2 separate regions of the Homo sapiens genome follow, and region 2 is linked to region 1. Evidence: fine-mapped expression QTL. A gene starts in region 1. The other region holds a variant in brackets. All regions are shown on one strand. Distances are from middle to middle.

Evidence for each region. PIP is the estimated chance that this variant, and not a neighbour inherited with it, causes the effect. A credible set is the group of variants that fine-mapping cannot tell apart.
Region 2: its variant is the best candidate, but not a certain one, in a credible set for the expression of POF1B in atrial appendage (GTEx, PIP 0.84).

Annotation. Positions count from the first base shown.
Region 1 is chrX:85,371,770-85,385,089 of GRCh38, forward strand. POF1B (POF1B actin binding protein) reads right to left here and starts at 7,896. Exons shown (of 17, transcript NM_024921.4): 1 at 7,870-7,896; 2 at 7,404-7,726. The coding sequence starts at 7,685.
Region 2 is chrX:84,896,271-84,909,590 of GRCh38, forward strand. No RefSeq gene overlaps it. Among named protein-coding and RNA genes, the nearest start is that of APOOL, 100 kb to the right of the region's middle. The variant CA/C (reference allele first, on the strand shown) is at 8,229.

The DNA.
Region 1 (13,320 bases):
GAGAACAGCCTTGATTAGATAATTTAAGTTTCCATAAACTCAATAGAATTTGTAAAACGCGTGGTACATTTACAGAGTGTACTCACAAGCCTCTAAAACTCAATAAACCATTGAATTTTTGTTTAATGCTCATATCATCTAATCTCTTCAATTTTGCAGGAAGACCTTACTTTTTCTGATAAAATATTCAGCATTTTGTTGAGTCGTTTATTCCTGTGGGTCAGACTTGCTATATACACAAACATTATACTTTATTGGCAACTTTAAGTAGAGTCTGGTGAAAAAGAATTTGGGGCCGGGCGTGGTGGCTCACGCCTGTAATCCCAGCACTTTGGGAGGCTGAGGTGGGCGGATCACGAGGTCAGGAAATCGAGACCATCCTGGCTAACATGGTGAAAACCCGTCTCTACTAAAAATACAAAAAAATAGCCGGGTGTGGTGGCGGGCGCCTATATTCCCAGCTACTCAGGAGGCTGAGGCAGGAGAATGGCGTGAACCTGGGAGGCAGAGCTTGCCGTGAGCCGAGATCGTGCCACTGTGCTCCAGGCTGGGCGACAGAGCGAGACTCTGTCTCAAAAAAAAAAAAAAAAGAAATGAAAAAGAATTTGGTTTATAATTATGTGGGCTTGGGGATAATTTCATTACATCACTTGAGATAATTGTCCATACCTTTGTACACACTAAATCTGAGCTAGGAAACTCTGGTTTCCCTAGAGAATTCATTATTCATAAAAGTATATCTTATTTCCACCTATTTGTTAAAAAAGCTGTTTTCAGGGGAACATCACACACAGGGGCCTGTCAGAAGATGGGGACCTAGGGGACGGATAACATTAGGAGAAATACCTAATGTAGGTGACGGGTTGATGGGTGCAGCAAACCACCATTGCCCGTTTATACCTATGTAACAAAACTGCCCTTTCTGCACATGTACCCCAGAACTTAAAGTATATATATATATAAATATATTTTATTCATATTTATATATATTATATTATATATACTATATATATATATACTTTAAGTTCTGGGGTACATGTGCAGAAAGGGCAGTTTTATATATAAGCTGTTTTCAGAGTTAAATCAGATGATGTGCAAATGGCCTAAATGTCTCAGTTATTTACTTTAGTGAAAATGCTTTTGAGTAGCTCAGTGCAGTAAAGAAAGAAGGGAAGGCAGAAGCTCAAAAGGTGTTATTCTCCTTTGAAAGAAAGAAAACCTTAAAAACTTAATATATACCCTGAATTCTAGGATTATTTCTGAGCAAGACCTTGAAAACTAGAGGGAAAACTATTTTTGTCCTCTAATGTATTTTTGATATTTTCCATTCTGATAATGGAACATTAGAATGGGAAAATATACAGTAAGGGTAATCATCAAATGTTTTGTTGAAATAAAAAATGTGAACTAATTTAAACTGAAATCATGAATATCGAAAGTTAATTAAGGGAGATAGCTGATGTAATGAAAATATCAGGAGCTGGTTTTTAAACTCAGGGCATTCACTAACCAGCTGTACTAAATAGGCAAGTTATTTTGAGCTATTCGAGTCTCAATTTCCTTATTTGTTTAACAGATAAATAATACACAATGAATATTGTCTTTATTTGTACATCGTACAATTTGTACAATAAACATAATAATGCATGTTTTATCTAATTGTTGAGGTTCTATCAAGTTGTTTACTAGATAATCATATACATGGAAGAGTTGTGAAAAACAAAAAACCCATGTATTAATATGAAATATTATTTTCACTGGATTGATTATATATGTGACTAAGTTACTAACTTGCAGTTTCTTTACTACTTATTGTGTAGTGGCATTGAAAGAGATACAAATGATGTTAGAATATAATCTCTACCCTCTCATGGTTATAATCATGTAGGGCATAAACACTATGAGTACAAATAGGAATTAAGTAGACTATCATAAGACCTATAAGAAGCTCACTAGGTAAGTTTTGAGGGCTAAGAGATAACTTCAACCTGGGACAATCAGAGGATCAGAAGGTTACACTTGAGGAAAGGCTTGAAAAATTTGTATAATTTCAGGGTGTCTAGATTGGTGAGGGTGAGGAGCAGGAGCAGTTCAGATGTAAGAGCAATGGAGTGAAAGACATAGCTGTGGAAAATTGGGGACTTTATTTAGAGAACAATCATTTACACTTAGCTAAAACATAGGACACCAGAAGGAGAGTTCCAGGAAGTTCCACAGGAGCCCTAACATGGAGGGCCTTGAAAGTCAGACTAAGCAATTTATAGATACTTAGTGTCATTGAAGGTTTTTGCAGCAGAGGAGTGATATGGGATGTGTATAGGGAATTTAAGCAACTTTTCTAGAGAACATATTCTTAGGTGTAATTAAAGTTGTGGAGATTTTAAAATTAATATTCCTAGGGACTCCAACTAGACTGCTTCATAGTTCTATTCTGCCAAAGTTCACCTCATGATTGCATATTTATTTACAGCTCTTCCTGAGACATTCCACATAGACCTTTTTGGGCATTTTCTTCATACAATTTTCTCTGCAATTGGTCTTTAGACTGCAAAATCTGAACCTCTTCAGTCAAGACCTGTTGGCTTCATTTTCCTGTTGATAGCTGTGGTCAAAGAGCTCAAAAGCCTGGTGTAAGACATACAAGAAAGACTGAAGGTAATGAGAATTAAATCATAGAGAATATTACATACGTAGTGCAGGCTTTGTTTCTAAATATTTGGAAACTTGCTAACATGAAAGTATAACTCTTTATGTTGTCTAATTTGAATTTTAAAACTTTACATAAAGACTAATATACAGTATAATATTCCATGAAGGAAAACCATGGAAGGTTTGTGTATGCTCCTGTTACTCCCAATGACTATGAGAATCACTGAAGGTAATAATGGTGAGTTACAAATACTCTAGGCTGAACAGTTTCAAAAGAAGCAATATCTTTAAAAACCACCTGACATTTATGCTGACAGAATTTGCCAAGGCAAACCTCCATTTGAATAAATTCCCTGAATAGTATGGGAGATGTTTTTGTTAGGATCTTTCAAAGCCATGTAACATAGTTAAACACCTGTCTGAGGTTATTGTTGAGATGTTATACTCAACTTATATAGCAAGAAACATGTTATTTATAATAATCTCTCTTTAGATGAAATAAACACTTCTTTGATTTAGGATAAAATCTGTGTTTCTGTTGTCATACAAAGAAAGCAACCGAATGTATAATAGAACTACTTCCTGTTCCTCCTTCTCTCCAACCCAAATCCCTCATTTAAGAGGTCCATATTGGGTTCTTTCTCTTCTTTTTCTGAAGAAAACTAGGAGACAGAGAGAAAATAAAATACACAGTCTTTTTTGCAGTGCATGCTTTCTGTCTTTAAAAATTATGAGTATATATACTTTATTGAAAATCAAAAAATGACCTCTACTGGGATAGCCCCTGGTCTGAAGAAAAAGTTGGCTGAAATATATTTATTAATAAAAGTTTTAACTTTTAAATAGGGCTTAAGAGCATGGCAAATTTCCCAATTGTTTTGTCATGAATTGTCAAGAAAATAAACTTGAAAGGACAGTTTCCCTCTCTTCCACTTGCCACCCTCATATCTTGCCACACACACACCGTGACAGCTTATGAGTGCCTTTGACTGAAAACAGGCCCAGCAATTTATCAGACCTCCGTTAAACAAGATACAATTGCCATGGGCATTTTCACTCAGCAATTAGTTGCACTCTCCAATTTCTATAGCTTCATTTAATTGTAAGCACAAAAGAGGAGACCAAAGCTGAAAATGCAACCCCTTTATCCTATGACCTCATTCTTTTTTCAGGCAGCGCACTTCCTTGAACAATCATTCACTTTAGTGACTACGCCCTTGAACAACAATTTATCAAAGCAGCACACCCCTCCCCACAGAACGGGAAACTTTTCTGATAGTGGAAGAGAAGAGTTATCCACAATCTTTGCAACCAAAGAAAAAGCACAAAAAAATCATATAAACAAAGGTAAGCCCCAGCTGAATAATTGTTGAGAACAGAGGTCATTCGTAAACACACATTTTCCCCCAGGCTGCTCTCTAGAGTTTCTTTGCAAGTTTCAAATTCAAAAGAATGGCAACCCTTATAACATATACACTAAAATAATCCTTCTCTCACAAAAGCATGTTTTACTTGATAAAATGCTGATGGTCACAACACAAAATACTCCTTTAAAATGAAATATAGATAGACACATGGGACACCTACAGACCAGGCTCTGTATGTCTGTCCTAAAAATGAACTCTCCCTGGACAGGTTAATGGTATTTATCCAGAAAATCACAGTGTTTGCTAAAAAATAGGCACTTAATAAACATGTATTCAGTGAATGACTGGTATTTAAAAATATTTTATTTTAATCCATTTTTTCTCTCTCACATTTTTTCTCTCTCATGTATACAGCTGCTCTGTATGCATGAAAAATACCTCGAACTTCATGAAAACCTTAATTAGTGGAAGGAAAGAATGTTAGCCCAATGAGTAATTCATATCAATGTTGCTCATTTAAGGCATTTCATTTTGAGTTAATGATGGTAGGTTAACAGCTAAGCTTTGTAAAAGATTGAACTAAGAATTTTTGTTTTACTTTAAGCTTCTAGAACTCTATTTATTTGCAAGACCACATTCAGTTCTAAAATGCATCTGAGACCTTGATTATATCTGTGTTTGACTATACGTGTTCATGCAGATAAACCCAGTAATTTTAATTCTACCATTAATTTAGAAAATTTCACCAGCAACTGGTTTCTACACTTAATTTTCTCTGAGAAACACTCTATCAATCAAACAAAATAATAACCAAAAAACATAAAATATATGTTTAATTAAAGAAACAAAGTAACATTATATATCTAGATAAATTTAAAATATGTTTATATCCATAAACACCATTTTAGTGCACAAGAGGTTAAGAGAATAAAAGCATGTACTCAAAAGCTAGAAATGGAAAATAAAGTGCTACAGAAAACATTTGATTAAATCGAAAATGCCTACTACATGACCTAAAATTATGATTCAGGAAGCAAAGCAGAGTAGCATCAATTTTGGTTTCTCAAAGGCAACATATTTTACTACTGGTAATATTTATTTTAAAATCTCATTAATTCCCTGAATGTCTTCCAAAAACCAAAAGGCAAAAAACAAAACAAAACAAAACAAAAACAAAGACAAAGTAAAAGTTTAACTGAATTCATGATGATCAACCATTGATTGTAAAATCAATTTTTCTTGCTGCCATGGTCACAAACTCTGGTATTAGGCTAATTGCTACACATCAACTCATCTGAAACGTGGTTTATTAAGGATAGACTTTATTGAAACATAAAGTGAATTAAGGGTTTTTGAGTAATATGTACTGCTTGCTCATGCCTGTCATGGTACATTATACATACCATCACATTATACTCATTTCGTTAGCATAAAGGTAATTTCAGATCAAATCTAGGTCCTACTTTACATGATGCCACAATGCCATTCCATCAATAAACAGGGAGAAAGGAAAATAAAATAGAAGAGTTTCCTCATCATATTCTTTGTGACAGCTATCTAAAAGCTGTCTTGCCAAGTTCTCTTTTAGTGGATTTGTGAATGCCCTTTGATATCCAACTCAGTTTGAAAATTTATAGTCAAATATTCTTTCTTCTTGTTTCACTAAGGAATTAATACTTCTTTTTTTCCCTTTACCACATAGCTTAACTTTCACTTTTCTCATTTTCTAACAGCACTTACTTTTCTTCCTTTTCAATAATAAATAACTTCAGACTTCACAGAGCCCTCCATTCTAATCTTTTATCCCAGTTTCTGCAGCTGCACTTTCTAGCCCTAAGTTGTTTATAAACTCCTGTGTGGCGAGCTACATTTTAGGAAGGAGATAGTCCATTTTTAAGGATCACTTTGGCAAATGCCAGGTAAAATAAGGAAAATCTTGTAAAAAGCTCAACCAACTTGATCCTGAGTTATTGAAAGGGGAAGCTGAACCAAGGAGTAAATAATAAAACATACTCCTAAAAATTGTCCGGTAGCCAATATTTATAATTTGTCAAATTTCAGCTTTTAAATATCTATTTATGTTTCTTTTACTAGCAAGTTGACAAAAAAGGGGTCTAAATATGTTTAAATAGCTATGGCAGATAGGATGATTTTAGGATTCCTAAGATAATAGTAATTGTTTTTAATCTGCACATCATTGTTTTTGAGCTACAATAAAACAAAGGTGGCATTCATTTTGTTCTGCATTAGCATCTCAATATGAATATTGGAGTGCACATTTGCATTATTTTTATCACTAATGCAAACTGGTATTTATGACCTTTATATTTTTCTTCTCCTTGACCTCAGTATAAGTGGAGTTTTTCTCAACCAGTTGAGAAATGTTACTTTATATTCTACTCAAATTTGTGGGTTTTGGAAAAATAATATGTATTACTCCTGATTGGTAATAATAATGTAACATAGCATCATATCCCAATGACTGCTTTTTGAGATTTTTGTATCTTAAAAACATAATTTCAGTTTGGACAGAATTTTCCAGAAAGCTTAAAACATGCAAATTTAATGTAAAAGGAGTCAGAGGATAAAATACACATAAAGCTGTTAATTTTATACAGTCTTGCAGGGTTACCTTGTATTTATTGGGAAGGTTATTAACACAGGTATTGGTGCTAAGAATAACTCTTAAGAAACAAACGTATTTCATTTTATGGGATGTCTTAGAGTTCCATCTTTTGTAGCTTTCATGTAACAATTGCTTACATCTTGCCTTCCTCAATCCTATATCAACTCTTCCAGTACTCTTTCTACAAGTATTCCATAAATTATTCACCTAGGCTGTACGATAAAAAGTGTGTCATTCTTGGAAGATGAAACACATATGACAATTCAGACATCTGCACCTCTCACTTATCCTGGAGCAGCTATACTATTTGCTGAGCACAAATAATTGCTTATCACTCAGACATGCCACAGTACCTGTATCACCATATTTGATACCAAAAAAAACCTGTTTGCTTCTGATATGAAATTAATCAGTAGGAACTTGTTCTAATAAAAATCTACTGTACTCAAGTTGAGAACTGCTTTGCAGTAGGGGCAAAGGGATTCCTTGGATCAGATCTTTCAGTCAGATCAAACAGAAAATGAGCCTTCCTATACTATGGTTAGATTATGAAAATCAGTGAAACCCGGAAACAAACAACCACAGACACTAGTAAGTGAAATAACAGCCAAGAGATGAATTTGGGTGACTATCCAAGGCATATATAACTGCAATCCACCAAAAGATATCCTGTGGAATAGAGGCAAAGAAGCAGAAAGGAAGAGAAATCAGGTTGAAGATTGCCTTTCTCCACTAGTCTGGCATAGCTTTCTTTGTTGTACCTGAGAATGGTCGCTCCAAACCAAATTTTGGTAGGAGGAGGTGGTTTTGAGAGGGGAGAGCACTTCCCGTGAGTTGAAGGGGTCCAAGGCCTGCACCACCTTGTTCATGGGCCCACTGTAGGTCCTCACTCGCTCATACACTACATTTTTTTCTGGAGGCTGCTGGGCTTGGCTTGACTGATGGTAGCAGTGGTAATGCTGGGGCTGGCACTGCAGCACCTCTGGGAGCTGCTGGGTTCCACAGCTGCTGCTGCTCGTCTCACTCCAATAGCTCGAGCTCATCTTCTTCCAGTGGTCAGCAAGGGACCTCCCAGATGTTCTACCTAAGGAACAAACAGAGAAATATAATGGAAAAAAAAGACAGGCAAGCAGGCAGTCAGGCAGGCAGACAGACACACGACACACGTGTGGAAACCGCTTATCAAAACCTCTGCCAATAGTGGTGCCGGGAAGAGAAGAAAGCTACCTGAGCAGCAGCAAGAGCAGGTCTGGCAGCTACAGAGGAAGCAGCAAAATATTTGAGCTCAAATGGAAAATGGAGCCACCCTGTGACATTGCTCCAGGAAATGGTACTGACACGCCCTTAGGGGCGGATTCACTTAGCAGGTTTACATGCCAGGAGAGGCCCTGCCTTGCCACGGAGATAGCTACAAGGCTGCCCAGCAGGTAAAGGAGTCTGTGAAGAGCAGAAATGTAGAATGTCAGGGATGAAGCCAGAGTTTCCAAGCACATGGGCTTAAAAATTCACAAAGACATGAAAATGCAAAAAACTTGCTAGAGAAAAAAAGTCACACATGTTATATGAAAGTGTCTTTTTATGGTTCTTAAGTTTAGCAAAGGTAGTTACCAGCATAAGTATTATTATTCCAGATTCCCAGACTAAAATAATGAGTATTAGTCTAGGAATACACCAATTTTCACAGATAAATTTGCATTCTTTGCAAAACCCATCTGATAATTGCAGTTAAGGAAGATTACTAAGGGGTCTCTTTCTAGTGACTCTGTCTAATATATGGACTTGTTTATCTTACTCAAAGCCTCGTATTCTTTTCTATCATTTGTTGAAGGAAATTTGTCTAAATGATTGAATTGCTGTATAGAAAGGTGGATGGTCAAGAAAAACCTAAAGATTCCACAAATGCTTTGCATTTTGGCATTCACATTTGTTGTTTTTCATTTATGCAAGGGAATTTCTCCTGCCCTTATATGTGCCCTAGGAAACACTGAGTTTGATTGACTTTTTAATATCTAGTTATTAAGGGAGCTGCAAGTCCTGAAAGATGCCTTAACTGACATAATGAGATTTAAATGTGTTTACAACTTACATTTATTACTACTTGAAATTTTGATCATAATGCCTACTTACCCTCAGATTTTGCTATGCAATATACTTCAGCACCACTTAAATCCAGAATACTCTCATTCAAAGTGACTTTAGTAAAAAGTATCTTCCTAATGTGTATATGTGCAATAGGACCTAGTATACTACCACCATTCTAGAGAGGAAGAGAATGTTATCCAGGGGGCTAGCAGCATTTTTTTTCTGCCCAGTGAACAAAGTGTTATGATTTACTATTCACTCTGTGTCAGGTACTGTTCAAGGGGTTTTATGTGGATTATAATTATTTCATCATTGAAGTGACTTTATGAGGTTTATAGGTGAGAAACTGAGGCACAGACATGGAGAGTTTGAAAAACTTTCCAAAGTTAAATAACCTGTAAATGGTGGGCCTGGCATTTTAACATATGGAGATTCATATTAGAGTCTAAGCTCTTATCTGGTATATTATACAGCTAGATAAATTCTCAAATTGTTCCATTTTACAGCTACATAAATTCTCATATTGTTCTGTATCCTGCCATCTAATAAATCTTCTAGATGTCAACATCAAAAAACACTTCAGAAATGCTAGCCATGAGAGACTTTAAAGGAATCTTTAGATTTTCTTTTATGGCTGAGGAGTGTGCAAAAAGCTGAAAATTACCCTTAAAAACTTTTAAGTTAGTTATTACATATTTACATTTATATTTGTGTGTTGAGTGCAGACCTGTCAAATCTGATCCTTGCTCATTTTAATGATATTCCTCAAGAATCAATTAAAATTTTATTAGAAATATGTGACATGTTAAACAGCCTGGTAAAATATCAGATCAATAACTTACTAATATCATTAGCAGTATCACTTTGAATAAACTTTATGTGTGAACAGAGAATAGGGGTTAAGTGGGATCATCCAGTCAGCTTTGATTCATGATAAAAATATAAATTAAACACACACACACACACACACAAACACACATTCATGTGAGCACACAGAATACTGTAAATATCTGCTGCAGCCAAGAAGTGACCTATTAAATAAAGCAAGAGATTGAGATGAAGAAAAAAATTTCCTTTATCCATAAACTGGTGACCATACCTGCCCTTCACATATCTTGGATATATAGTGTTTTGAGCCAACTTCCTTGATACAGTTTGGCTACAATTTGTGTGTAAAGCTGATACCTTCACCCAATATCTGAGCCTCATTCATCACTGTTCTCCATCTCTGGGTATGAGGGACAGAGAGCTTGAAGCTTAGGCATAGTATATTAGAAATGAGATTAAGCACTATCTGGCACGCAAATCACATCTAACTATGAAGCAGGTGTTGACCACAATTGTTCATTTCGGAAAGGCTTATTAATCATTGTCACCAAAATTTCTACTTCTCTGACAACTCACTTGTGCATCACATGATCGGTTTCTCTAATTGGTTTTTCTCCTTTATGAGGATGATGTTCATACTAACACATTTTTGATTAAGAAATAAATATAAATATGTCTTTATGGTAGTAATAACACTTGCCCTATTTTACACTTGAAAATCCAAGGGATTGACATTCTGTATTCTGCATCCTTCATGATTATACCACCCTTCTAACATTAGTGAATGGAGTAGTAAGAGTTGATTCCTTATTCTTAACTCCAGATTTTTTCAGGTAATCTTTAATTAAATTTCCAACAGTTCTTTTGTTTCACACAGTAATGGAGATATTTTATGCTTACCACTGAAAAAGCCTCATTTACAATGACAGATTTGGGGGACACAATTGGTAACCCTTTACAAGTTAATTCAGTTCTAACAGACTTAAGAAGATCTTTATTGCTTTTGATTACAAAAATAATTCATTTTTAAAATTTCAAATGAGTAAATACATGAACAAAGTAGAAAATTAAACTCATCATACTGATAATAGGAGTAAGGGATAGAGCAAGGAACAGAAATGTCTGCTGCACACTTTAATGGTAATTTTTAAAAAAACAATGATTTACATTTTGACTGAGTTGTCTTGAAGGTCATCCGAAAAAGTCCTGATTTGACCTACTGAGGTTGTTGGAAAAACACAGTTGCTTCTATACTCTCACAATACAGAACACTTCTGTGACCCCAGATGTGTGAGGGTTATTTCCCTACCCAACTAGTAAGTGATCAGTTCTACAGTGGACACCAGCTGTGTGTCCTCTAATTCAATCCTGACACTATCTACTTGGAGATAGCATTAAAACTCACAGGTTGAGGACTTTCAGTCCCACAAGACTGTCCCCATTCAGACACCAGTCGCAAGCCCCAGATCATTGTACCTGTGCTCCTGACCAACCAGCTATCAATCAGAGTTCATATGACCCCCCTCCTTGGATTTAATTAATTTGCCAGAGCGCTCACAGAACTCAGGGAAATACATACTTACATTTACTGGTTTATCATAAAGGATATTATAAACGATTCAAATGAACACCAAATGGAACAGATGCATAGGGCAAGGCACAGAGCCTCCATGTCCTCTCGTTATGCTCCATTCTCTAAGAACCTCCACATGTTCAGCCATCAGGAAGCTCTCTTTGAATCTAGTTATTTTGGAGTTTACATAAGCTTCATTATGTAGGCATGATTGATTAAATCATTAGTCATAGGCTATCAATTTCAACTTCTCTCCCCTAAAGAAAGGTGGGGCTTAAAGTCCCAACCCTCTAATCCTGCCTTGGTCTTTCCAGTGACCAGCTCCCCTCCTGAAGCTACCTAGGGGATGCCAACCCTCAGTCAATTCATTTGCATATGAAAATATATTTATCACTTTAGAAATTTCAAATATTTTAAGCGTTGTATGCCAGAAAACAGGGAAGAAGACCAAATATCTATTTCACAATATCACACCTACTTCATAAAATTGTTATTAGAATCAAATGTGAAAGTGTTTGCTGATTTTAATATAGTACCCAGGCATATGATTTTAAAATATGTTATTCACAGATAATGTGTTATAATTTTTGTCAAATAGTAGGCTTTGAAAAGAAAATATGAATGCCAGAGGAGGCTATAGGCCTGGTTTATAAAAAGCTTAGCTACCTGAAACTGTTAAGGTAAAACAAATAGGTAATTAATTTATCAAAAATGATATATATATATATATAACTATCTTAAACATTAAATCATAAAGGTAATTATAAACTTATCATCAAATATATTTCATCAGCATCAGTAGTTTTCATGTGTATAACTAATCCTGCACTCCACCTTCTATTTTATGGGGATGATGCTCAAGTCTATCTCTAGCCCAGCCTCACCCCCGGGGCTAATGATACAATGGCAAAAGATAGTTAAAGCAAAGTTACTCAAGTCTTTTTACTTCTGCGTTCTCTATGATCAAGGAGAAGTATGTACACACTGGAAAGGATCAATAACCATTGGTCCATTCAGAGGAAACTGAAGCCCCAAAGTAGATGAGATGACTGTATGAAATCACTTACGTTTTACTAAATGAGTCCAATTCATTTGATTCTGCAGAACTACATTCCAGCCTTCTGACAAAGTTGAGCTTGTTTAACTGCTGTTGAGAAACTTTAGACTGGGAAGTGTTTCAGATTATAATATATGAAAAAACATCTGTCTTGATTTGGAAAAAAATGAATGGCAGAGTTTACAAAGTGAGTATGTCTGACATCAGTGCAAGTCAAAATTCTATATCAGACTATAAAGTGTATGATGATACATATGCCAAGAATAGAGATAGGTGATCCCCGAAAAACTTTTGGTATCTCTGCTTCATGGTCTCTGAATATCTACTCTTAAAGTCAATTTTACCAGTGGCACAGTTTTGTTCAGAACTAACTGATCCCAGTGTTCCAAAAACCATAGTAGATAAAATTATATTTTGATTCTAGACAAAATAAATAAATCCTCAGTGTGATTTGAATGAAGTGGAACCAAGCCTCTATGATCCTGGAAAATCCCCAGGGATGACTGACCTCTCCTGTAAAAAAAGATTAATTTAAAGCAGCATTTCTCAAAGCTTGTCCTGAATAACACTAGTTCTACAGGGTCCTATACCTGGGAAAAAATGTTTGTGATCAAATGAGTTTAAGAAATATTTGGAAATACTTGGTTAAATATAATTTGTGAATAGTTTTATTGCTATAATACTTCTATCCTTTCCTAAGCTGATGTGCACCATGATCTTCTAAATGGATCAATCGTATGCAGTGTTTTTCAAGTTTTGTTGGTGATAAAATATATTTTGTGTGTCATATTTTGTGTTTTTCTGATTTTTTTTTCTTTTTTATGATTTTTTTCTTCTGCATGCTTTTGGCTAGACTCATATAGTAAGAATTCATATCTAGTTTGTAATTCTACTTATATAATAAAAACATACCAAAGACCATTTGATCAGCCACATTACTATACTAGTGATACTCAAGTGAGATCCATGAACCTCATTGGGAAAATTTTTAGAATTGCAAATTCTCAGGCCCCACCCCAGACCTACTGTGTAAGAAATCCTGGGGGTGAGGACCAAGGATCTGTTTTAAAAAGCTCTCCTGGTGATTCTGATGTACACTAAGGTTTGGATATCCCTGAACTATACCAATATATTGGAG
Region 2 (13,320 bases), 480 kb before region 1:
GCTTGCAAAGATCCATAGAAGAAGCATGGTTTCCCAAGGCTGCACATTTATTCACCACTTCACTGGGTTGTGGAGGTTCCATTAACTCCATGTCACTCCCAGGTGGGCCATCATCCTGCCTTGCTTTTATCTGTTCTGGTTGGGTTGAGTTGTTTCCTTGATTAGTACCAATGTGAGTACCTGGATGTTCCTGTTGAAGGTGTGTATTTACTCACCCCTTCCATTCCTCTCTGTGGAGAGCCATGCACCCCAGCTACTTCTATTTGGCCATCTTTACCACTCACCTTCCAGTAGTGTATTACAAGAACAAGACAGCATGCCTAAGTAGGATTTACTCCAGAAACTCAAGGTTAATTTAGAAGAAGCCTTATTAGTCTAATTCATTTAAGACTAAAAAAGGAAATCCATGTATTAACAACTCAATAGATACAGAAAAGTTATTCAATACTTTTAATAACAATTCTTGATATAAATAAAAATCTCTTCTATGCACTGTTTATTTTTTTACTGTGCTTATACATTACTTCTATAATTTCAAATGAAAGTTAAAGTACTATTGCCTAGTCTAACAGGAGAGCTAAAGCAAAACATTGACATTTGACTCTCCATCTCAAAAATGTTACAGAATATTTTAAGAGTGGTCAGGTAACCAGGTAGTTATTTATATGTGTATATGTCAAACGAAAATTTTCTGATAGCCATGGTTAATCCAAAGGAGTGCACACACTAGGGGTCTAAGAATTGAATATGACTCAAAACTTTACTTGAGTGTATATATTTTCCTTTTATCAGTCATTTTTAAAACTACCCCAGTTTCATAATGTAATTTTATTGGAATTAAAGTTGAACACTTTAAAATTGTATAAGCAGTTACTACCAGCTACAGCTATTAATCTATCCATATCTGCTATTATGTTTTTTTCCTAGGTTTAACCATCTATAGTGATAGCATGAGATAGATGGTTGGGCTTTACTGTTCTATGAATTCACGTGTGCCAGCTAATCAGATTATAAATTTGGGTAAATTATGTGAGACAGTAAATTAGGTTTTAAAAAATAAAGATGGGTAAAAATAATGTGACTGCTATTTAGTTTTGAAAGTCATCAAGTAGGGGAAGCATAAAAGATCTAACAGCTATATGTTAAATACTCAGGTATTTTTGTCATGATCTATTATTTTTCATCTTCCAGAAAACACAGAGGAATTGTTCACAAATAGAGACTCCACTTCATTTTCTCTTATTTAATTAAAAAGCGACCTTTTTTCAGATACTTGGGGATTTTTTTAACATCGTGATGGGATCATTTCTATAAGAAGCCCACCTTTGATGATTTCTAATATGTGCATAGATTTTCACTGTCATGATTTTACCCAATCTATTCTCAGTGAACAAGACCCACATTTCAAAATTGATGTTTTAATAAACCCTTATAACATTCATCCTTAATATAAAGCCAGTACAGATTCTTAAAATACAGGGATCCTAAGCAATTTCACCAGGGATTAATGGGCAAAGATAGGCAGGTGCTATAATTGGAGAACTGCGTTCTAGATCAAACTCTATCACCAACTAACAATAACATGACAAATATTACTTGGCCTTATTTCTCTATCTATAAAGCAAAGGATTGAGCTAGACGATCTTTAAAGTCTCTTCTAGCTCAACAATTCTGTGGTTCTAATGTGCTGAAAAAGAGTATATCTGGAAAAGCCCCCTTCTACAGTAGAAGGAAGTGGTAGTGGCCATAGTTTGAAGAAAAAATTTTGAAAAATTATTGCAATCTCAGATATCTCATCCTCCTCACACATTTATATATGTGTGAACTCACACAAAGTGACATACTGCATAAGCAATAGCATGGTTTTAGAAATCTAAGTTAAACTGTTATCTTCAGTAACAGGCTCTTAAAAGGTAGGAAAAATGTATAATTTGGTTTGGCTTTGTGAAGAGACCCATTCTCTGTGCATAAACTCTCCAAATTATAGTGACTTCAGTATTCAACTGAAACTTAAGGGAGAACTTTCTCATACTAGTATAACTGTGTGAGAGTCCAGAATAAAGCAACAGTAATTTGATAATTAGTATAACAGTTGTAAGCTGGACCCTGGAGTGATGAGATTTTTTTTGTTTGTTTTTTGTTTTGTTTTGTTTTGTTTTGTTTCGTTTTTGAGATGGAGTTTCGCTCATGCTGCCCAGGCTGGAGTACAATGGCATGATCTCGGCTCACTGCAACCTCCACCTCCTGGGTTCAAGTGATTCTCCTGCCTCACCCTCCTGAGTAGCTGGGATTACAGGCATGCACCATTACGCCCGGCTAATTTTGTATTTTTAGTAGAGACAGGGTTTCTCCATGTTGGTCTGGCTGGTTTCAAACTCCTCAGGTGATTCCCACCTCGGCCTCCCAAAGTGCTGGGATTACAGCCGTGAGCCACTGCGTCTGGCCAGAGTGATGAGTTTTTAAAAGTGCAACCACAAGTTACAATGGCATATAGTTGTAACAAAATTTTAATTAATATAATAATATACACTTAATTTTAAAAATAAAATAACTAATTTTATGAATAAATTTGCCTTGGGATTTCTAGGAAAAGCAATACATGCATTTAAGGAATTCAAATATGTTTTTCTTTCTTTCTTTTTTTTTTAAAAATTTTACTTTAAATTCCAGGATACACGTGCAGAACGTGCAGGTTTGTTACATAAGTATATGTGTGCCATGGTGGTTTGCTGCACCTATTGACCTGTCCTGTAAGTTCCCTCCCTTTGCCCCCCACCACCCAAAGAGGCCCTGGTGTGTGTTGTTTCCATCCCCGTGTCCATGTGTTCTCAATGTTCAACTCTCACTTATGAGTGAGAACATGTGATGTTTGGTTTTCTGACCCTCTGTTAGTTTGCTGAGGATGGTGGCTTCCAGCTTAATCCATATCCCTGCAAAGGACATGATCTCATTCCTTTTTATGGCTGCATAGTATTACACAGTGTATATGTACCAAATTTTCTTTATCCAGTCTATCACTGATGGGTATTTGGGTTGGTTCCATGGCTTTGCTATTGTACATGGTGCTGCAAAAAACACACGTGTGCATGTGTCTTTATACTAGAATACTTCATATGGGATTGCTGGGTCAAGTCGTATTTCTGGTTCTAGATCCTTGAGGAGTTGCCATACTGTCTTCCACAATGGTTGAACAAATTTACATTCCCACTAACAGTGTGAAAGTGTTTCTATTTCTCCACAGCCTCACCAGCATCTATTGTTTCTTGACTTTTTAATAATCACCGTTCTGACTGGCGTGAGATGATATCTCATTGTGGTCTTGATTTGCATTTCACTAACGATCAGTGATGTTGAGTTTTTTTTCATATGTTTGTTGGCTGCGTAAATGTCTTCTTCGGAGAAGTGTCTGTTCATATCCTTTGCCCACTTTTTGATGAGGTTGTTTGTTTTTTGTCCTGTAAATTTGTTTAAGTTCCTTATACATTCTGGATATTAGATGTTTCTCAGAGGGGTAGATTGCAAAAATGTTCTCCCTTTCTGTAGGTTGCCTGTTCACTCTGATGATAGTTTCTTTTGCTGTGCAGAAGCTCTTTAGTTTAATTAGATCCCATTTGTAATTTTGGCTTTTGTTGCAATTGCTTTTGGCATTTTTGTCATGAAGTCTTTGCCCATGCCTATGTCCTGAATGGTGTTGCCTAGGTTTTCTTCTAGGGTTTTTATGGTTTTGGTTTTTACATTTAAGTCTTTAATTCATCTTGAGTTAATTTTTGTATAAGGTATAAGGAAGGGGTCCAGTTTCAGTTTTCTGCATATGGCTAGCCAGTTTTCCCAGCACCTCTTATTAAATAGGAGATTCTTTCCAATTGCTTGTTTTTGTCAGGTTTGTTGACAATCAGATGGTTGCAGGTGTGTGGTGTTATTTCTGAGGCTGAGACTAAATTTTCATGTCTATTACACTGAGATGCTCTGAAGAGATAAAAGAGCCAACGTCTGATTTCAATCATGTTCTTAATGTTGTTTACCTTGGCCATAGGAAATGCAAGAGATGGCTCTGGAAGAAAAGACAGTCTAGAAGAATCCCCTTTTTTAAATGGAAAATATACTGGCTTATTGTGAAACAGTCAACTCTCTACTGGTTGCTTCACAATGTAAGTGTACCAGGAAGGAAAGTAAGTCTATCTATTATCACTGAATTACAGTGAAAAACAGTTAAGTGTTTATTTGTGCCAAATAACAGTTATTTTTGCTTAAACCATAACTTATTTAAATTTTAGTTAGAGCTGTACAGTTTTAGGCTCTCTATCTACACATAGAAAATGAGATCACAAATTGTTGGAATTACACCATTTGTGGCATCCATTATGTAACAATAAAATGATAGCCCGGAAATATACTTTTTTCCTAAAATTGCAACAAAAATGATAAAATACACAAGAATAAACAATATAAAATGTGTAAGATGTGTGAGAATAAAATGTAAAATTTTCATAGAGGAAATGATAGATAAATGTTGAGTTATATGGCCACATTTCTGGCTTAGAACAGTCAATATAGTAAATACGACAAATCTCAAATATTTCAAATTAACTTTAAATGTAATGCTACTTTAATCAAAATTTTGATGGGATTTTTTCAGAGGTTGACTCTAACTCTAAAAGTTCATCTGGGAGAATAAAAACTGTGAGAGAAATCCCAGATAAAAATACTAAGTTTAATTAGAAGGTAATCTACCCCAAAAAATTCTAAAATATACTCTAAATGTATAATAATTAATATACTGGCAAAAATAAAAATATATAAGTATTCTAGTGAAATGAATAAGAAAATCCAGAGACAGGATAAATATGTGAAAAATATGTGAAAAATATACTAAAGGCAATATTTCTTTTATTATTATTATTATACTTTCAGTTCTATGGTAAATGTGCACAATGTGCAGGTTTGTTATGTATGTATACATGTGCCATGTTAGTGTGCTACACCCATTAACTCGTCATTTACATTAGGTATATCTCCTAATGCTATCCCTCCCCCATCCTGCCACCCCATGACAGGCCCCAGTGTGTGATGTTCCCCTTCCTGTGTCCAAGTGTTCTCATTGTTCAATTCCCAACTATCAGTGAGAACATGTGGTGTTTGGTATTTTGTCCTTGTGATAGTTTGCTGAGAATGATGGTTTCCAGCTTCATCCATGTCCCTACAAAGGACATGAGCTCATCTTTTTTATGGCTGCATAGTATTCCGTGGTGTATATGTGCCACATTTTCTTAATCCAGTCTATCATTGACGGACATTTGGGTTGGTTCCAAGTCTTTGCTATTGTGAATAGTGCCACAATAAACATATGTGTGTATGTGTCTTTATAGCAGCATGATTTATCATCCTTTGGGTACATATCCAGTAATGGGATGGCTGGGTCAAATGGTATTTCTAGTTCTAGATCCTTGAGGAATGGCCACACTGTCTTCCACAATGGTTGAACTAGTTTACAGTCCCACCAACAGTGTAAAAGTGTTCCTATTTCTCCACATCCTCTCCAGCACCTGTTGTTTCCTGACTTTTTAATGATCACCATTCTAACTGGTATCAGATGGTATCTCATTGTGGTTTTGATTTGCGTTTCTCTAACAGCCAGTGATTATGCACATTTTTTCATGTGTCTGTTGGCTGCATAAATGTCTTCTTTTGGAAAGTGTCTATTCATATCCTTCGCCCACTTTTTGATGGGGTTGTTTGTTTTTTTCTTGTAAATTTGTTTGAGTTCATTATAGATTCTGGATATTAGCCCTTTGTCAGATGAGTAGATTGCAAAAATTTTCTCCCATTCTGTAGGTTGCCTGTTCACTCTGATGGTAGTTTCTTTTGCTGTGCAGAAGCTTTTTAGTTGAATTAGATCTCATTTGTCAATTTTGGCTTTTGTTGCCATTGCTTTTAGTGTTTTAGACATGAAGTCCTTGCCCATGCCTATGTCCTGAATGGTATTGCCTAAGTTTTCTTCTAGGGTTTTTATGGTTTTAGGTCTAACATGTAAGTCTTTAAGCCATCTTGAGTTAATTTTTGTATAAGGTGTAAGGAAGGGATCCAGTTTCAGCTTTCTACATATGGCTAGCCAGTTTTCCCAGCACCATTTATTAAATAGGGAATCCTTTCCCCATTGCTTGTTTTTCTCAGATTTGTCAAAGATCAGATGGTTGTAGATGTGTGGTGTTATTTCTGAGGCCTCTATTCTGTTCCGTTGGTCTATATCTCTGCTTTGGTACCAGTACCATGCTGTTTTGGTTACCGTAGCCTTGTAGTATAGTTTGAAGTCAGGTAGCATGATGCCTCCAGCTTCGTTCTTTTGGCTTAGGATTGTCTTGGCAATGCAGGCTCCTTTTTGGTTCCATATGAACTTTAAGCAGTTTTTTCGAATTCTGTGAAGAAAGTCATTGGTAGCTTGATGGGGATGGCATTGAATCTATAAATTACCTTGGGCAGTATAGCCATTTTCACAATATTGATTCTTCCTATCCATGAGCATGGAATGTTCTTCCATTTGTTTGTATCCTCTTTTATTTCATTGAGTAGTGGTTTGTAGTTCTTGAAGAGGTCCTTCACCTCCCTTGTAAGTTGGATTCCTAGGTATTTTATTCTCTTTGTAGCAATTGTGAATGGGAGTTCACTCATGATTTGGCTCTCTGTTTGTCTGTTATTGGTGTATAAGAATGCTTGTGATTTTTGCACATTGATTTTGTATCCTGTGACTTTGTTGAAGTTGCTTATCAGCTTAAGGGGACTTTGGGCTGAGACGATGGGGTTTTCTAAATATACAATCATGTCATCTGCAAACAGGGACAATTTGACTTCCTCTTTTCCTAATTGAATACCCTTTATTTCCTCCTCCTGCCTGATTGCCCTGGCCAGAACTTCCAACACTATGTTGAATAGGAGTGGTGAGAGAGGGCATCCCTCTCTTGTGCCAGTTTTCAAAGGGGATGCTTCCAGGTTTTGCCCATTCAGTATGATATTGGCTGTGGGTTTGTCATATCAATGGGGCAAAGATGGATTATTCAATGGATAGTTTTGGGTAACTTTCAAAAAATTTGGAAAAGAGAAATATACCTGGATCACTATATTATATAAATGGTATGGTTTGGCTGTGTCTCCATCCAAAATCTCATCTTGCATTGTCATAATCACCAAGTGTCAAGGGTGGGACCTGGTGGAGATAACTAAATCATAGGGGTGGTTTCCCCCATACTGTTCTTATGATAGTGAGTTTTCATGAGATCTAATGTTTTTTGTTTGTTTTTTGAGATGGAGTCTCACTCTGTTGCCCAGACTGGTCTCAAACTCCTGGCCTCAAGCTGTCTTTCCAGCTCCACCTCCCAAAGCACTAAAATTACAGGCCTGAGCCACTGTGCCCAGCCTGAACCCTTTCAATAGCCTCTGACCTGTCTCCCCATGTTCACTTTGGCCCCCCTCTAATCTGTTCTACCATTCTAATCAGAGAAACATTTTCTTAAAATATAAATGTGATCATATCACCACTCCTTCTCCTCACTCCACTTTTCCATCCATCCCCTTTATTTAAAGCTATCAATAACTTTTCATTATTTTTAGACTAAAAAAAATCCGTAAAAAGAATTACCAGGCATTGCATGGATTCTATACCTCTCGAGTCACATCTTATACCATGCACCACTGTGGTTTTTACATTCCAGCCATGTTGGCCTTCTTTTAGTTTCTCTAATGTGTTAAGTTCCATCCACCTACAGAACCTCTGCATATGTTTTCCATTTTTCCTATAATACTCCATGACCTGGGTAACTCCTAGTCTTCCTTGAGAGCTCACTTTAATATATGATTCTTTTAGGAAAGCCTTCCCTAATCCCTCCCTGCCCACCAACTTGATCACTTATTAGCTCTCATAGCATTATGTACCTCTACTTCACAGCATTTAGCACACTCGTAATTTTACTTTTGTTTTGTGACTCTTGTACCAATGTCTGTCTTCTGCTTTCACAAGTACTACCTCTCTGTTCCCAGAACTTCTAACCCCAACAGTTCACATGCCTCAATATGTGGCACAATGTATGTTGCTCAATTGATATTAACTAAATTAATGAACAGTTGTGATGATTCAATGAATTAATGCATGTAAATTACCTTTGCATAGCGTCTATCACATAATAAGTCATCAGTAAATATCACTCCTCATCATATTATTCTATTCCCTCTTCTCCAAC[CA/C]ATGTGAAAAATCTTCTATTTCAAATGTGAAAATTTTTAAGACCAGTTATGAAATATCAAATCATTTTATATTGTATTAATAACCTGATGAATATCATTCATCTTATTCTTTTCCAAATTAAACAGAAAAAATACTAAATTGTATTCACCATGTTTTCATTTCACTGACAGAACATTCTTACAATTAATTATCTTAATACAAGCTAAATCAAAGTTCCAGTGCCTTTTTTAATGGATCGGCTTTGTGAGCATTTTTTTCCATGTGGCCTTTTGTCAGATTATTATTAAATGTATGAGATTTTGATTTTTTAATTCAGTGATTGCTAGGTTTATATTTTTATATAACTTTAATAGAATCTTTCCCTTGGGAATTGTAATGCATGTTACAAACATCACAGCATATCAATAGTTGGTTCCCCTTTTTTATTCTTGAAGAAATTGTGACTCAAAAAGAATAAGTGACTTGGTAAGCATTGGTATAATTATAACAACCAGATCTTAGTAACCTCTATAAATAAGTTGAGTGATGTCCAACCTTTTGCCATTTCATGACAATTTCTTAGAAAAATTATGGGTTGCTTGTAATACCAGAGAGAGGGAGAGAAAATGGTATATTAAAAAGACCACATTTCAAATACTGCTCTGTGATGCCCATATGCTAAACAATTTCATGCTTGGCAACTTCATTTTTAGATATTTTTAAAGAGTTTTCAAAATAAAAATAATTGATGTATGTAATAACCATCCTATATTAGGAAACTTAAGGTTTAGAAATACGTTAAATGTTACTATCACCACCCTTTTCTGGCCTTTTGGGATATATTTTTTCTTCTGTATGTATCTACATGTATGTATTTCTTCTGTTCATGCCCTATTGATGTTGAGAACTATTTGTGTATTTTGAAGTAATTCTGTGTAGTCATTAACTTAAGAGTATGCTGTTACCATAGCTGGTTTACTAAATTCATGGTCCATTCACTTTGCAGAAAGCTATTAATATTAGGTTGATGCAAAAGTAATAGTGGTTTTTGCCATTACTTTTTCACCAACCTAATATCTCAAATGCATGGTAAGCAAACTGCATTCTTTCTTTAATAAACAGTCTACAAAACTGTTGTTCATTATCACTCTGGTGACCTGGCTCTTGGCTCTTCATTTCAATGGCTAACACACTCTATTCAGTTTTTTCTTTACATCCTTTTTTTCTTTCCCTTTTCCATTTCTTTTGTAGAATATCAAGGCTGAGATGATTTTATATATCCACCTGAATTCCAAATTGACTTGGCTCCATGTTGCAGAAGAAACCAACAAATACATCCTTAAGTTCAAAGTCCAGATCAGCACTGTACAATAGAAATATAATGTAAGGTACATATATAATTTTAAATTTTCAAATAGTTTGTCCAGAATACCGGTGTTCCAGCATTATGCTGTGACTGGAATTTATGAATAATAGATTCTATAAGATTAACACAATAGTTCTATTACTTTCAAATTAGCTTACCACTTTAGTTCATTTTTCACCTTTCTTCATTTTATCTGCAAAATATTAAAATTACCAGTTACCTTTCTTTGGGGGAAGAGTCATAGGATTTATATATTTTTATCAAGTCTTTTTCTAACTTACTATATTACAATACCTACTAATTTACAATGTTCTTCAAATGATATGCTGCCCATCCTATAGCCAGATTCCTATAATTAAAGAATGTGTGCATAAAATCATCAGCAAGCTTGGGAGAAGAATCAATCAGCATCAAATTGTTCTTTTCCCTTTTGTTGACTTAATAAAACCACATACATTAACTTAGTTCTACAACCAAGGACCTATAGGAAATCAGGCAATGGATCAAAAAGAAATAGAATGACTTCTGCTTCTGCTCTGGGCTAATATTCTAGAATATGTATGATAAATTATGTTAATGGTTGTAACAAATTTTGAAGAAACTCAGTCGAAGAACTTGGAAAAAATCTACCACCATCAAAATAGCAGAAAAAAGCTTTGGAAGCCAAAGTCATCCATTTAGTTTATTATATAAGTGCTAAAATTAAGATGTTTGGAGAATACCAGTATAGTACTAGGAGATATTGAAGAGATAAGTATCTATAAGTTACTAGATGTCATACTTTCTCTATTAGGTTATATTCTTACTATTATATATCTTAGTATATAATATATAATTATATATAATATATAAGAAATACAATAATATATGATATACATTACATATAAGTCATAGCATATAGTTTATATAGCTTCAGAACAGATGAAATGAAACTTGGGATGATTCAGGGAAGAGAAATAAATCCTAATCACAGGGATATAAAAATAGATTCCATGAAGAAAAGTTAAATAAATCAGTGTGTTTTAGTGGTAGAGTTACATAATTATTACAACTTAGTATTTTTAAAAAATTATACAAAAAGGCAGTTGAAAATTAAAAATAAAATTGCAAAAATACGTGTTTAAGTTGAAGCTGGAGAGCTTGAATTATCTATAAAATAAAATATATGACCAGAATTGGCTATTGAGGAAAGTGATATAGTTTCCACCTTTTAATATCTTAAACTGTGTCCTGGAGGCTTAAGTATTCAAGCCTGAAGTAAGAAGTAGAAACAAATTGCTTTTTTTAAGTAGCTTTCCAACTATAAGATTGCATAATTTTTCATTAATGTGGACTAGAGAGTATGTCTAGACAGTACTTACCTGTGTGTAAGATATTGCCCTGAAAGAGCTTGTAACTTTTACATTTGTCCCGTGATGTGGAGGAGTGATTTATCTACCAGTGAAGGAGATGAGGAAGGGCAAAAGAAACCCATTCTTATTTTCAAAGTGGAAGAGATTTAGCTACTCAAAAGCCCAGGTCATTTGACACTAGGGGTAATTCACTAAATGGTAAAAAGAATAAACAGTCGTATTAATCACATCTCTAACAATTTACCCTCAAATTCATGTATATTGTTAACAGATAGCTCCCTGGACTGAAAACTTTGGGTATTCTAGAATGGAAATTCCTAGGAATAAAAGTTGGCCCCTGCCATCTAGTGGACACCATAAGATTATTTTCTTTCTAATATTTACCTATATTTTGGTTTTGGAAAACAGAAACCAAATTAATACAGGACTTGGTGAATCATTGTCAGTACTATATTTCTTTATTTTGCTCAGAACTATACCTTTCCTTTTTAATCAGTGTTTCATATGTTGGTCACGCCACAGAGGTGGAATGAATCCCCCACCCTCAACCTCAACTTTGGTTAAGAGGTCAAGACACCACATACACACCAGGACACTATGAAAATGTTTATTATTTGCATAATGATGCTTTCCGGGGAGAGCAAGACAGGCATTCCTGCCGATCCAAAAATAACTTGAGGTCAGGGTGTGGTGGCTCAGGCCTGTAATCCCAGCACTTCGGGAGGCTCAGACAGGAGGATCTCTTGACCCCAGGAGTTCAAGACCAGTCTGCACAACATAAGGAAAACCTGTCTGCATAAAAAACTAAAAAATTAGTAGGGCATGGTGGCAGGCATCTGTGGTCCCAGCTACTTGGTAGGCTGAGGTAGGAGGATCGCTTGAGCCCAGGAGGTCGAAGCTTCAGTAAGCCATGATTGCACCACTGCACTCCAGCCTGGGTGACAGAGTGAGACTCTGTCTCAAAAAAAAAAAAAAAAAAAAAAAAAAAAAGCTTAGTTTTTCTAATATTTAGGAGCTGAGGCTGGGATTAAGTTTCTAGCATATGAGGGAGAGGGAGGAGGGTAGAGCTTGAAAACTATCAGCAATCAAATATCTAAAGTGGAGTCAGATTATTTATTACCCTTCTTAAGGGATATTTTGCCCTATTAGACTAAATTTAAGTCTATATAAGGAAAATGAACTACATAATTTACATTGACTATCCTAGTAGACTAAGTGGGTTATTCTGCTAGATTATATAAAGATACTATTGCTGATTCTGTGATACCAATATTATGGAATTGCAGAGAAGAAATATTTCTATTCAAGTTTATAATGTTTTCTAATGTATAAATACTTAACAGACTGAAAATTTCAATTTTAAAGCAGATAAATTAATAATTGATAACTCACATTATAAAATAATCACATTACAAAGTAACCTTTACTTAATAACTGACTTTTTTTAAAGTAGTGAGATTTTTTTAGACTAATGATACTTTGCCTATAAGGTAACCATTTTTCAGTGAGAATATATGATTTAGAAACAAATAGGAATGACACGCATCTCTTGTGAATACATTTATTGCAAGGATCATGGTATATTTTTAGTTTACTACTTGCACAAACAATGAGGAATATCCCCATTTTTTATTGTTGCTGCTATTATGTTCGACTTCAATTCCTTTTTAGGTATAACCTACACTTTTAACCTAGACTATGTTGAATTATTTATTTTTTAACATCATAATTCCCTTTGCCTTTTGGAAACAACCTAAGTGCCTTAAGCTATAAGAGTAACTTTGAATTTCCACTGCTGGATTATCACTCAATTGCTGAATTTCTTAATTTTAATAAGAATTGTGTTTGGATAAACCTTTTGTCAATTGCAGTAGATTTATACTTACTATAAAAAACAACAACAGCACAGAAATATAGTGGCTTTAAAATACTTAAAATTAGGGAACAGGAACACTGACACATTGAAGGATCTGACTATGAAAAATGTTGAAACATTGATATATAGAGAAAGAACATTCACTGAATTTGATTTAAATACAGAGTAAAAACAAAAGACTTGAAGTCTGAGCAGGGCATATCCTTACTTGAGTTTGACTATTTTAGTTTCAGTAGTAGTATACTCAAACAGAATCATACCAAGGATAATGGATATTGTGCATCAAATGTTGACTTACTGGCAGAGATTGCATAAGAAGAAAATTAATGAGTAATAAAGGTCAGCTGTTGTTGATGCAGCAAACTTTTTTTAAAAAAAATTCCAGATCTAGGTAAATTATGGGAGAAAGTGTTCATGTAGTGACCCAATATACGAGAAGCAAGATTGTTAAGGACATTATTGTTTAATTGTACATTTGCACATAAGATAGCCTTTTACAGTATTAATGATATTGTTT